2 separate regions of the Homo sapiens genome follow, and region 2 is linked to region 1. A link means that fine-mapping ties the variant in region 1 to the expression of a gene that starts in the linked region. Tissue or cell type: nasal epithelium. Region 1 holds a variant in brackets; the other region holds the start of a gene. All regions are shown on one strand. Distances are from middle to middle.

What was found. PIP is the estimated chance that this variant, and not a neighbour inherited with it, causes the effect.
Region 2: it holds the start of ZNF483, and the variant in region 1 is fine-mapped to the expression of ZNF483 in nasal epithelium (TOPMed, PIP 0.99).

The regions. Positions count from the first base shown.
Region 1 is chr9:111,558,353-111,560,852 of GRCh38, forward strand. It overlaps a transcript of ZNF483 not described here and a transcript of PTGR1 not described here. Among named protein-coding and RNA genes, the nearest start is that of ZNF483, 34 kb to the left of the region's middle. The variant T/A (reference allele first, on the strand shown) is at 1,055.
Region 2 is chr9:111,523,740-111,526,483 of GRCh38, forward strand. It overlaps ZNF483 (zinc finger protein 483), which reads left to right and starts at 1,440. Exons shown (of 6, transcript NM_133464.5): 1 at 1,440-1,523. RefSeq lists a silencer at 1,343-1,692 and enhancers at 1,793-1,992, 2,104-2,603.

The DNA.
Region 1 (2,500 bases):
TATTCTTTGAGCACTTCTTTGATTTATGGTATAAGATGCTCCAGGCTGGGCATGGTGGCACATGCCTGTTGTCTCAGCTAGTTGGGAGGTTGAGGTAAGAGGATCTCTTTAGCCTGGGAGTTTGAAGTCAGCCTGGACAACATAGCAAGAATCCTCTTAAAAAAAGAAAACTGAAAATGTTGCAAGCTCATCTTGTATCTTCCCTACCCCAGCCCCAGAACAAACCATTTCTGGTTCCTTTTAGTAGAGAATAATATATAAAATCCACAATCTGGAATTTAGATAAGTTCATTGCTATTGGAGTGTCACTACTTTCAGGCCCTCTTAGTGGGCAGAGTTATATATATATGTGCACACACACTCATTTATATGTGTGTCTATGTACATATGATATATACACACATACCTATTTTTTTGTCTCATACACATTGAAATTCATGAGTTCATACCAATACCTCCAATTCCAATCTAACACCACAAGGTTCTTCCCATGTTTGTAACTCCCTTCTCTGACAGTGAGAAACTCTGGCTTCCCTTATCTTTAATTTACTTGTTTGATCAAACCTTCTGTATGTAACCATCTTCTATCACCACCACTACCCCCTCTCCTGCAGATGCTCCTCCATTCCTCTCAAGCTCTGACATCCTGCAGCTCCTGGCCCCTACTCTTGCCTCCCCATGTGGTTAGTCTTTCCTTCCCAAAGCTCTGTCTGCTCATGCTGGGCCATGCTGCCAGGTAGAAGCTCCCCTCAGGCTCTGACCTCCCTGCCAAGCTATCCATGCATCAGCACCTCCTCAGCCTCCTTGGGATCCAACCGCCCATACCAGGTCACTCACTCGCACGTGATACCCTCCTACCTCTGCTAGGGATCACATACTTCACACCAGGCCACCCCTTCACGTGCACACCTTCCTTACTTTGGGCCCTTAAACTCCATGCCAAGCTGCCCCCAGGCACGATGCCCTCCATACTGTGTGGACTTTGACTCCTCACACCAGGCAGCCCTGCGATTCCAATGCCCTTCTCACCCTACTTGGACTCTGACACCCTCAA[T/A]CAGGCCCTGCTGCCCCTGCCCTACCCACACGGATGACTTCACTGTTGTTGGGCTCTGATACACCATCTGGGAAACCCTGCTATGACTCAAGCCATGTTCATTTTGCTTGGGCTCCAACTCCCCTCATCAGGCCACAACACACTGCCCAACCCCTCCTTCTTCCTGCTCACCAGTGTCCACACACACACACTCACACACACACATATACAACATACATATATAACACACACACACATACAGCACACACACACACAGCTCTGGGCTTTGACTCCCTGTGCCAGGCAGCCAGCCTCGGTGCATGACCTCTTTGCTCTGCTGTGGGCCATAGAGGTTCTCCCACCCCAAACCCCAGCAGACAGTCACCTTGCTTGGCTCCTTCTAATGTCTTTAGGATTGAATAGTTTGGTAAGAAAAGAGGACACGGGCAGTGACTTTTTTTTCTCTTATCCCTGTCCTTCAGGCATTCCTTAGTTATCTTCCTTGAAGACAAACCATATTAGAAGTGTATTACATCTTTCCAGAGTTTTTGTACAGACACTCTTCTCCCCATTGTTTCATTGTACTACAATTTATTTAACCCCTTATCTCTATGATGGCAGAATTGATCAATAGAATTGACATCTTTCTGACTGATACTGAATCTTCTGGCCGGGCATGGTGGCTTATGCCTCCCAAAGTGCCTCATCCCAGCACTTTGGGAGGCCTAGGTGGGTGGATCACCTGAGGTCAGGAGGTCGAGACCAGCCTGGCCAACATGGCAATACCCATCACTACTAAAAATACAAAAATCAGGCTGGGCATGGTGGCTCACGCCTGTAATCCCAGCACTTTGTGAGGCCAAGGCGGGTGGATCACGAGGTCAGGAGATCGAGACCATCCTGGCCAACACAGGGCGTCTCTACTAAAAATACAAAAAATTAGCCAGGCGTGGTGGTGGGCGCCTGTAGTCCCAGCTACTCGGGAGGCTGAGGCAGGAGAATCGCGTGAACCCTGGAGGCGGAGGTTGCACTGAGCCGAGATCAGGCCACTGCACTCCAGCCTGGGTGACAGAGCGAGACTCCATCTCAAAAAAAAAAAAAAAAGATCAGCCGGGCATGGTGGCAGGCGCCTGTAATCTCAGCTACTTGGGAGGCTGAGGCAGGAGAATTGCTTGAACCCGGGAGGCGGAGGTTGCAGTGAGCAGAGATCATGCTACTGCACGTCAGCCTGGGAGACAGAGACACCATCTCAAAAAAAAAAAAAAAAAAAAAAAGGCACCACGCACGGTGGTTCACGCGTGTAATCCCAGCACTTTGGGAGGCCGAGGTGGCCGGATCACAAGGTCAGGAGTTCGAGACCAGCCTGACCAACATGGTGAAACCCTATCTCTACTAAAAATACAAAACACTAGCCAGGCATGGTGGCTCATGCCTGTAATCCCAGCTACTCAGGGGGCTGAGGCAGGA
Region 2 (2,744 bases), 34 kb before region 1:
CCGAGTAGCTGGGATTATAGGCATGTGCCACCACACCTGGCTAATTTTTTGTATTTTTAGTAGAGACAGGGTTTCTCCGCGTGGGTCAGGCTGGTCTCAAACTCCCGACCTCAGGTGATCCACCCGCCTCAGCCTCCCAAAGTGCTGGGATTACAAGCATGAGCCACCGCGCCCGGCCATTCTCAGCCCTGTCTCTTCAGCTTGACTTGCTGCCTGTGATAAGCCCACTCCTTTTGAGAGGAGTGGTTCATTTAGTTGAGCTTGCTCTGCCCTTTTGAAGTCTCAGGGCCTTGAATCACCTTGCTCCTTCAGTCTAGAATGAATCTAGTCTTTCTCTCCTAACTCCACCCCTTCAGGGATCATCCAGTTATTAGAACCCTCCAAACAATTTTTCTGGAGTTCTTTGGCCCTTTTTGCAATGCCCCCAATAATCCATGCAAATACTCATTCATAAGCTCAACAAATATCTATTGAGTGCCTGCCATGGGCCAAGTCCTGTTCCAGGACCTAAACACACAACCTAGAACAAATGAAATAAAAATACTTACTCTTCTGAAATTAGTATTCTACTGGAGAAGGCGGACAAGTAGTAAAAAAAAAAATTAACAAACCTATAGGGCATGTTAGAAGAGGAAACAAGAGTAAGGTGGGATTCCTATTTAAGTGGAATGGTGGGAGAGCTTCATTGAGAAGACCTGAAGGGATGAGAGAGCGGGCCGTATGGCCACTTAGGGAAGGAGCAGGTCAGCCGGAAGTACCTGGCAGGTTACAAGAAGAGGAAGGGGTCTATCAAGATTGGAGCAGGAAAGTGGGGAAGAGGTGCGGGAGGTTACAGGGGCTAGATTCCATCAGGCCTTGTAGGCCACTATAAAGACTTGGGTTTTAACTCTGAGTGAAATGGGAAACCATTGCAGGGTTTTAAGCAAAGGAGGGTCATAATTTGACGTTTTTAAAACGTCCGTCTGGCTGTGGAGAATAGCCAAGAGAAGTAAGGTATAATCAAGAAGCTATTGCAATAATCCAGGTGAGCCATGAGGGTGGACTGGACCATGGGGGCAGGTGTGGAAGTCATAAGATTAATATGTGTTTAACTCAAGTTGTGGCATTAATTATGGCTTGCATTAAATGCATCGGTAATATGCTTCTGCGGTGGATTTTTCCACCTTAGATTTCAGGGAATGGAAGTGATGGGAGCGGGTAGGGAAGGTCTGAGGTTACTAAACAGATGGAGCCTCCTGGATCTGCAAACCTCATACGATTCTAGGCCTCTGAGCCTCTGGCGCAGCAATAATTCTGCAGCCGAGCCCACTAGCCGCTTCCCAGTGACCATGCGCAACAGGCAGGTGGGAGCCTATGGAAAGCGCGGACTTTCGGAAAGCTGCACGAGCGCGTTCGGGGAGTCCGGTTCAGCGCCTCTGCGCAGGCGCAGTGGTTCCCGCAGGCTTGCGCGCGCACTCGCTGCGGGACAAGCTTCTGGAAGCTCTTTGCGGTGGCGTTGGTGCTGTTTGCGGATGCTGATGCAGGTACTGGTCGTCCCGGGCCCCGAGTTTCGGGGCCGTGGCCGGGTCGCCGGCTCCGAGGGCGCACTTGGGGCGGGATGGGGGCCGGGAGCAGCCTACCAACGGGCTGTGCGCTGCGCTGCTGCTGCTTCTGTGGGAGGTGCGCACTCCGCTGCGGGATGGGGCTGTTGGCTTCCCTCCATCCCTCCCTGCGCCACTTGGGCACTGTTGACATTTTGGGCGGGATAATGCCTTGTTTTGTTTGTGGTGTGGCGGTGAGGGGGAGGCTCTCCCGTTGTGGCAGGATGTTTAACAGCGTCACTGGTTCTGCCCGTTAGATAACAGTACCACCTCTCGTCCTAGTCGAGCTAACCAAAAATGTGTCCAGACATTGCCAGAGGACCGCTGGGGGGTGAAATCTCTCCTTTTTTCTTCCCTCTGGTTGAGATCCTCTGGCTGCGTCACATTTTCACCGGGCCTCCTATGTAAACTCCCTGTAGACGGAGCCGAGTGTCTTAGTCATCGCGGAGCCCCAGGTGCTCAGCACGGCGCCAGGTACGTGGTGGGCGCCTAATATTTGGCAGAGGAATAAATGACGTCATGCTGCTGTGTGCCGGGCGCTGTACTCGGAAGTGGGTTGTTATTGGTATGGTAGTTGCAATGCGAGGCTGTCACATCCTTCACTTGTCGCATTGTAGTCCCGCTCCGGCTGTATTGTCATTTCCTGGACCCTCTGTGAGCGTGAGGACCCTTTCAGGCCTGTCCACGCCTGGCCCCGCAGCTCATGGCCCCTGGTCTCGTTCCAGCTCATTGTAGTTGCTCCGTCACTTATAGAATGAATGAATGAATGCAACACAGGGCAGTCTGTGTGCAAAGGAGTGCTTTGGGATCAAGCAGAGCATCACACCAGAAGTGACAGTTGAAAGGAGTCAGGCTTTAAAGACGAATAAAAGTTTGGTAGGAGAAAGAAAGCAACATTCCGAGGAGAGGGAATAGCCTTGGTGCAAAGGCTAGGAGAGTATGTAGAGAGAGAGGAGATACTAATTTATGGCTGTAGTGTCAATCGGGTAGCTAGAGCTCAAGAGGTGAGGTCATCAGACAGTGTCTCTAGATCACAATGCCATGGTCCCTGCATGTGAACTTTATCGAGAGACAGTTCGGTGGCTGGTGAGGGACTGTAAGCCGGGGAGTGATAAGATCATATTTTGCATGTTAGAAGGAATTTTTTGGCCACAGTGTGAGACT